Homo sapiens: one gene and its partner. The protein of the gene in region 2 interacts with the protein of the main gene of each other region in a pairwise test. Each region holds a gene or a part of one and is shown on either strand. Other genes may lie near its edges.

What was found.
Region 1: the proteins of SRSF9 (region 2) and DUSP11 interact in a two-hybrid assay, tested with the Homo sapiens proteins (one study listed by BioGRID).

Annotation. Positions count from the first base shown.
Region 1 is NC_000002.12:73,778,377-73,782,288, forward strand, and holds the start of DUSP11 (RNA/RNP complex-1-interacting phosphatase), read right to left. Parts: upstream 1,599-3,912; coding exon 1,498-1,598; intron 1-1,497. UniProt on the Homo sapiens protein: Possesses RNA 5'-triphosphatase and diphosphatase activities, but displays a poor protein-tyrosine phosphatase activity. In addition, has phosphatase activity with ATP, ADP and O-methylfluorescein phosphate (in vitro). Binds to RNA.
Region 2 is NC_000012.12:120,467,975-120,471,886, forward strand, and holds the start of SRSF9 (serine/arginine-rich splicing factor 9), read right to left. Parts: upstream 1,775-3,912; 5' UTR 1,636-1,774; coding exon 1,448-1,635; intron 1-1,447. UniProt on the Homo sapiens protein: Plays a role in constitutive splicing and can modulate the selection of alternative splice sites. Represses the splicing of MAPT/Tau exon 10.

The DNA of each region.
Region 1 (3,912 bases), on a different chromosome or scaffold from region 2:
CTATTAGATATATTTTTTGTTAGCCAAATTGTATGTTAGCCTTGTTTCCTTGCACAAAATAAGACTTTTTGAAAATGGGAATCATAGCCCGCACAACATGTCCTCTCTCCTCTCTGCTTTGCATTTCGCCACTCCACTTATTAAACCCCACCAAGTAACGACCTATACCGTCCTTCTCTCCTGTTTCCCCATCATAAAAACGAACACAAGCCAACACAACAGTACAACTCAAATAAGGCCTATATAAAACCGGAGATACCCAGAACTTCTGTATCCCTGTTAAACTTGGCCCAGTACCAGATACTAAAGTGCCATTAATACAAACATATTCACTGAAATAATTTAAATTCAATTATTTCACTTCACGCTTTTAGTTTTCATACGACTGATGCCATAAAGTTCAATTAGTAGGAAACTTCAAGTTCATATTTTAAGAGAAAACCTGCTAGAAGAGGGACTGTGAACTTCACTTAATAATGCTAGGAACTGGCCGGGCGCGGTGGCTCACGTCTGTTAATCCCGGCAATTTGGGAGGCTGAGGCAGGTGGATCACCTGAGGTCAGGAGTTCGAGACCAGCCTGACCCACATGGTGAAACCCCATCTCTACTAAAAATACAAAAAAAATTAGCCGGGTGTGGTGGCGGGCGCCTGTAATCCCAGCAACTTGGGCGGCTGAGGGAGGAGAATCGCTTGAATCCGGGAGGCGGAGGTTGCAGTGAGCCGAGATTGGACCATTGCACTCCAGCCTGGCGGAGAAGAGCAAAAATCCATCCCAAAAACAAAAACAAAAAAACGGATTGGAAGAAAACAAACAGGAGATTCACTAATTAGAACCCCACTGCAATAAGTCAGGCAAGACCTGTATTAGGGTACTGACAGAAAGTGACAGTCAAAAGATAGTAGATAAAATGAAGAGGATTTATTGAGGTATGAGATGGTGGAGGATGGTCTCAAGGAGTAAAAACAGTTCAATGCACCTACGTGCAAAGTCTCAAAATTAATCATTTGTACGTATAAAGGAGTTATCTTTCAAATGAGGCCTGTTAGGAAGTAACAAAGTATGCTCTTTGTGATTTCTGGAAACAATACAAACCAACTTTCCATGTGAGATCTCAGGGCGCTACTACTGCTGGGTTCCTAACTCAAACCATTACACTTTCCGTGCCAACGTAACAAGGAATTGAGGAGGTTCCATTTTGGGAATTAAGGAGTGTCCCCAACAGTAACAGTCCCACCTTAAAGCAATCCTTCCGTATTTTACCTAAGAGCAATGGCCAGAACCTCCCTTTTACAAGAATATGGAGAAATCACAGGACATCACAGACATCGCCCCTTTCAGCTACAGCGGGTGGCGCAGAGGGTCAAAGCCTCAAAGCAAGCGGCGGACAAGTCAAGCTTGCGATGGCAACGGCGAGAGGCAGAGACCACAAACGATGAAGCCCAGACCCAGAAGCCACGAGCTGGAAAGGCCACGCCAAGGGACCAAGACATACTACCTTTCGGGGATGTGGTTTCCGCCCTTCTTCTTGGCTGAGGAGCGTCCTGAAAAGTCGCGTCTCCGGCCCCAGCCACTGCGGGGATGATGCCACTGGCTCATGTGGGTCCCAAGAAGCCGCCCACCCAATGCCAAGTCGGCCAAAAGCGCCAGTCCGGCGCCCTCAATGCCAGGATAAGACCCTAAACAGGAAAAGACTCGGCAGCCACCTACGCCGCGCTCCAGCGTCTCGCTATTGCGCATGTGCCACCGCCGGTCGTGATGGCGTAGCCACGCTGGCTTACTGAGACTCCTGATCTGTAAACAGGACTTTGGTGGCTACAGCGCCCTCTTTAGCCAGAGGCCAGTAGCACAGGTCAATAAGGGCGTGTATGCACCCTTCAGAATTCAAACAGTGAGGCACAGGGAAGTCCCTCTGCCCGATCCGCCCCACGCCCCGGTTCCTTGTGTGTTCTTCTAGATATTTACCAGCGCTTACATTCACATTTTGCATATTTTGTATACATATTTACTTTCACATATATGTATATCCTCTATTTTTATACAAAAGGAGTAACTGTACATATTCTACAGTATACCTTAAACACTGATTATCCCAGTCAATTTATGCATACATAGATTCTATTTTTAATGGCTATAGGCAATTTACTTGCTTATGAGTAACATAATTAAAAGTACCATAACGTATTTAGCCAGTTCAATATTAATGGACCTTTAGTTGTTTTCAGGTTCTTTTCAAATCTTGTTACAGACAATGCTGCAATGTGAACATCCTTATACATATATACAACTATATCTAAATTCCTAGAAGTAGAATGTCTGGAATGAAACACATACAAACTTAAAATTTGGAAAGATACTACCTAATTACCCTCCAAAAATAATGTAGAAACATACACTCCCATCAAAGCCAAACTTTTATTGGGTTCCTATCACATACCAGGTATCATGCTAGAGGTGGACAGAATGTATTTAAGTTTTAGCAAATACAAAAAATAACTGAGAGTGGAGCTCAAGTCCAAGGTTTCCACACAGTCTCAAGCATAAAGATCTGTACCCGTTAGAAAAACGTTCAATTCTGCTAAAAGTGGAACTACAAAGGACAGCATACCCTATAGCAGCTTTGAAAATAGAATAGAGTACTAAATTCCAGATTAAACTGTAAGTAATTATGATTGCAGACTTTTTTTTTTTTTTTTTGAGACCCAGTCTCACTCTGCCACCAGGCTGGAGTGCAGTGGTGCCATCTCAGCTCACTGCAACCTCCGCCTCCCGGGTTCAAGCAATTCTCCCTGCCTCAACCTCCTGAGTAGCTGGGACTACAGGTGCATGCCACGACTCCCAGCCAATTTTTTGTATTTTAGTAGAGACAGGGTTTCTCCATGTTGGCCAGGATGGTCTCGATGTCTTGACCTCATGATCAGCACTCCTCGACCTCCGAAAGTGCTGGGATTACAGGCTTGAGCCACCGCACCTGGCCAATGGCAGATTTTTGAAAGTAATTTTTACTTCTTAGTTTCTAATTTATGAAAGTAACTTACATATATTTTTAGTAATCTTTGCAACCATTTCAGAGCTGGGTAAACCAAGGATAAGAAAGGTCAGAGCTATTGAATAAATGAATATTAATAAAGCTAGACTGCTAGCTTTATTAACATTTTTGAGACAGTACTTTTCCAACCAGTTTTAAATACATAAACATTTACAATTCTGAAAATTTCCACATCATTAAAAATGTGTCAATATTCATAAATTGTTCATTGGAAAAAGAAAAAGACAGGATAGCAGAACATAACAAACCTACAATTAGGAACATTTAATTATTTGTTGTTGTTGTTGTTGAGATGGAGTCTCTCTCTGTCACCCAGGCTAGAGTGCAGTGGCGCGATCTCAGCTCACTGCAACCTCTGCCTCCTGGGTTCAAGCAATTCTCCTGCCTCAGCCTCTTGAGTAGCTGCGACTACAGGCGTGTGCCACCATGCCCGGCTAATTTTTGTATTTTTAGTAAAGACAAGGTTTCACCAAGTTGGCCAGGCTGGTCTTGAACTCCTGACCTCAAGTCATCTGCTCTCTTCGGCCTCCCAAAGTGCTGGGATGACAGGCGTGAGCCCCTGCGCCCAGCCCACATTCAAATTTGACATTAAATTGTAAAATATTGTGGCCGGGCATGGTGGCTCATGCCTGTAATTCCAGCACTTTGGGAGGCCGAGGCGGGCAGGTCACTTGAGGTCAGGAGTTAGAGATCAACCTGGCCAACATGGTAAAATCCTATCTCTACTAAAAATACAGAAATTAGCTGGGCGTGGTGGCTCATACCTGTAGTCCAGGGTACTTGGGAGGCTGAGGCAGGAGAATGGCTTGAACATGGGAGGCGGAGGTTGCAGTGAGCCAAGATTGTGCCATTGCACTCCAGCCT
Region 2 (3,912 bases):
ATCCCAGCTACTGGGAAGCTGAAGCGGGAGAATCGCTTGAACTCAGGTGGCGGAGGTTGCGGTGGGCCGGGATCGCACCACAGCACTCCAGCCTGGGCAACAAGAGTGAAGACCTGTCTCAAAAAAAAAAAAAAAATAGTACCTACACCTCATAAATTGTTAAAAATACTAAATACAGGCTGGGCGGGTTGCTCACGCCTGTAATCCTAACAATTTGATCCGCTGAGACGGGAGAATCACCTGAGCTCAGGAGTTCCAGACCAGCCTGAGCAACATGGTGAAACCCCTAATTTATCAATCTAAAAAAATAAGAAGGAAAGAAAAAAAGCTAAATACACACCATGGCACTTGACCCATAGCAACTGTTGAAAAACCACAATGGCACGGTTACTAAATAAGCGAGGCATAGCCTTCTCCGGCTTAGGGGTAAAAATGCCCAGTTCCGGTTTTGAGGCAAATGAGGAGATACTAGGGATGAGCTGTCAGAGTCGACTCTTCAGCCATCAACGCCTCGCGGTGCTTCCTGCCTGCCCTTCCTCAGATGCTCCCCTTGCCCTATCAATACGTCCACCCCAGGTAGGTCGGACACCCTACGAACATTCCGCGTTCCCCGGGAGCAAATGATGCTAGGAAAACAGGGTGCGGGCTCTTATTTGGCCGGAGTGGAGTGACCAGGTCAGCGCCGCAGCTGCTAACCACCACCAACCACAGTTTTGAAAGTTCCTGGGCTTTTTCCGGCCTGAGGGCCGACGCTGTTTGCAAAATCACAAGCACTCCTTAGAGCGGGGTTAGGAATCTAGAGTTTCCAAATCCCTGGAACCTTTAGCATCTCGCCAAGCCTCCCTCATCAAAGGAGGGAAGTGAAATCAGAGCCCCACTCCGGCTGTTTTAGAAGTTTTCCCGAATCCGTGATCCCTTTACAAAGCCCGGGCCCTGGCCTGCGGGGCGGGGCGCGCGAACGGCGAGCTATTCCACCAGAGATCCCTCCACGACCTCCAGCGGCATCCGCGACCCTGCAGCTTGCTCTCCAGCCACGGCGAGCACGGGCCGGGGGAGAGGCGAGCGGGAAGGGCGAACGGCGACCCCCGCGCTGCCCCGCGGCCGCTTCCCCCTACGGTGCTGCCCCAGGCAGGAGGCGGACAAGGCTCATTTGGACCCCCCGAGGCCGGTGCAGGCGGGCTTGGGCCCTCCAAAGGCTCAGCTTTTGGGTTTCTAAGTAAAATATTGGAATAATAAAAATAAAGGAAGTGACGACGGCGCGAAGGACGGCCCGGGCCTGCGAGGAGAGGCTGCCTCATCCTCCACCCGTGAGGGGGCGCCGTGAGGGGTCTGCGCGGAGGCGGGGGGAGGGGAGGCCGGGGGGAGGGGAGCCCTGGGGGAGGGGACAGCAGGGAAGGCGGGGGCCTCAGGCACCGAGGAGGAGAGGGCAGGGGCGCGGGGGCCTCACCGGGGGTCCTCGAAGCGCACGAAGGCGAAGGGCACGAGGCCGTGCCGGTTCTTGAGCTCGATCTCGCGGATGCGGCCGTACTTGTAGAACAGGTCCTCCAAGTCCTTCTCGCGCACGTCGGTCGGAAGGTTCCCCACGTAGATGCGCCCGTCGCCCTCGCCGCCGCGCTCGTCCGCCCAGCCCGACATCCGCACCGCCCGACGCCGCGGGCCCGCCGCAGCCCACGTCGCCGCCGCCGCCTCAGCACGGGTCCCCCCGCAGCGTCCCCGCGGGCTCCGAGGCGCTCAGCCGCACTGCATTGTGGGAACGCGGAGCGGAAGCGAAGGGGTCGGCGGAGGCAAAAGGAGTCCTCTTAAAGAGAACGCGGCTGCGACCATTGCGCGTGCGCGCAGGCCGGCGCCCCCTGGAGGTGCGAAGGGCCTTCGGGCGCTGACAGGGAGAGCCTGGGGCCGGGCCGTGTGGATGCCATCCCCGAGCGCGGTTCGCGCTCGGCTGAGGCGCTGGACAAGTGGCTTGGGCTCCCGCGCCTCAGTTTCTCTCTGTGGCGCCGCCTACCTCACAGACTTGTGAGCACTCACTGACGTGGGTAGCGCCCAGGGCCTGCGGGGCGCAGGAGAGCTGGAGTCAGGCGGAGACCGCAGGCTGACCCCGCAGCGGCCGGGCTGTCGCGGCCCCCACCTCAGGTCAGTAGGCCCCCGGGCCACCCTGTCCCCATTTTACAGTTGCTCAGAACTGACGGTGTCAGCATGAGATGGACTCCATAGCTTGGCCTTGAGTTTGTCGGAGTCGAGGGAGTAAGACTCTTAATGAGTATCACAGCGATCACTATAGAGTGCATCCGACTTGTGCTTTTCATCCTCTCCCGGGCAGAGTCTGAGGCCACAGAGGGGTCAGGAATGGAACCCAGAGCCATGCTCCCATCCTAAGTACTGAGTCCTTATGGAGCTCAGGTAGACACCCACCTTGGCACTTACTTTTCCACATTCACATCCCAGAACGCGGAGCATTGAACCCAGGGACCTTACAGTGAGGCCTTGCACCAGAAGACTTTTTGTTTGTTTTTGATACAGGGTCTTATTCTGTTGCTCAGGCTGGAGTGCAATGGCGCGAACACGGCTCACTGCAGTCTCGATCTCGCTGGACTCAGGTGATCCTCCCACCTCGGGGCGCCGTGAGGGGTCTGCGCTGCGTCCAGCTAGTTTATTTTCTATTTTTTTTGTAGAGAGGCTGGTCTCGAACTCCTGGGCTCAACCGATCCTCCAGCCTTGGCCTCCCAAAGTGTTGGATTACCGGCTTGAGCCCGGCGCCCGGCTGGAATACTCCTAACCTAAAGATTGTTCAGGCTGGGTGCGGTGGCTCACGCCTGTAATCCCAACACTTTGAGAGGCCAAGGCGGGAGGATCACTTGAGGTCAGTAGTTCGAGACTAGCCTGGGCAACATGGGGAAACCCCGTTTCTACTAAAAATACAAAAATTAGCTGGGCGTGGTGGCGTGTTCCTATAATCCCAGTTACGCGGGAGGCTGAGGCAGGAGAATTGCTTGAGCCCGGGAGGCGAAGGTTGCAGTGAGCCGAGATCATGCCACTGCACTTCAGCCTGGGTGACAGAGTGAGACTGTCTCAAAAATAAATAAAGATTTTTCATATTAAAAATGAAACCTGGCTGGGCGTGGTGGCTCATGCCTGTAATCCCAGCACTTTAGGAGGCTGAGGTGGGTGGATCACTTGAGGCCAGGAGTTCAAGACCAGCCTGGCCAACATGGCAAGACCCGCCCCCCTACTAAAAATACAAAAAAAAAAAAAAATTAGCCAAGCTTGGTGGCACGCCTGTAGTCCCAGCTGCTTGGGAGGATGAGGCACGAGAATCGCTTGAATCTGGGAGGCAGAGGTTGCAGTGAGCCGAGATTGTGCCACTGCACTCCTCCAGCCTGGGTGACAGAGGGAGACTCTGTCTCAAAAACAAGACAAAACAAAAACAAACAAAAAAAGGGACTAAAACCACACATTTAATCAGAAGGTAGTTGATTTCTCATTATACCATCTGAGCATTTTAAAATCAAAACAAACCAAAGACTAGACACCCACATATACTACTGAGTGTATATCTTTTTTGGAATACAAGTTGATAGTATACATCAGGCTTTCATAATATACATATACCCTTCGATCTTGTAATTCTGCTTGTAGGATTTTTTGTTTGTTTGTTTTGAGACGGAGTCTTACACTGTCACCCAGGCTGCAGTGCAGTGGCGTGATCTCGGCTCACTGCAAGCTCCGCCTCCCAGGTTCATGCCATTCTCCCGCCTCAGCCTCCTGAGTAGCTGGGACTACAGGTGCCTGCCACCACGCCCGGCTGATTTTTTTATATTTTTAGTAGAGACAGGGTTTCACCGTGTTAGCCAGGATGATCTCAATCTCCTGACCTCGTGATCCGCCTGCCTCAGCCTCCCAAAGTGCTGGGAATAC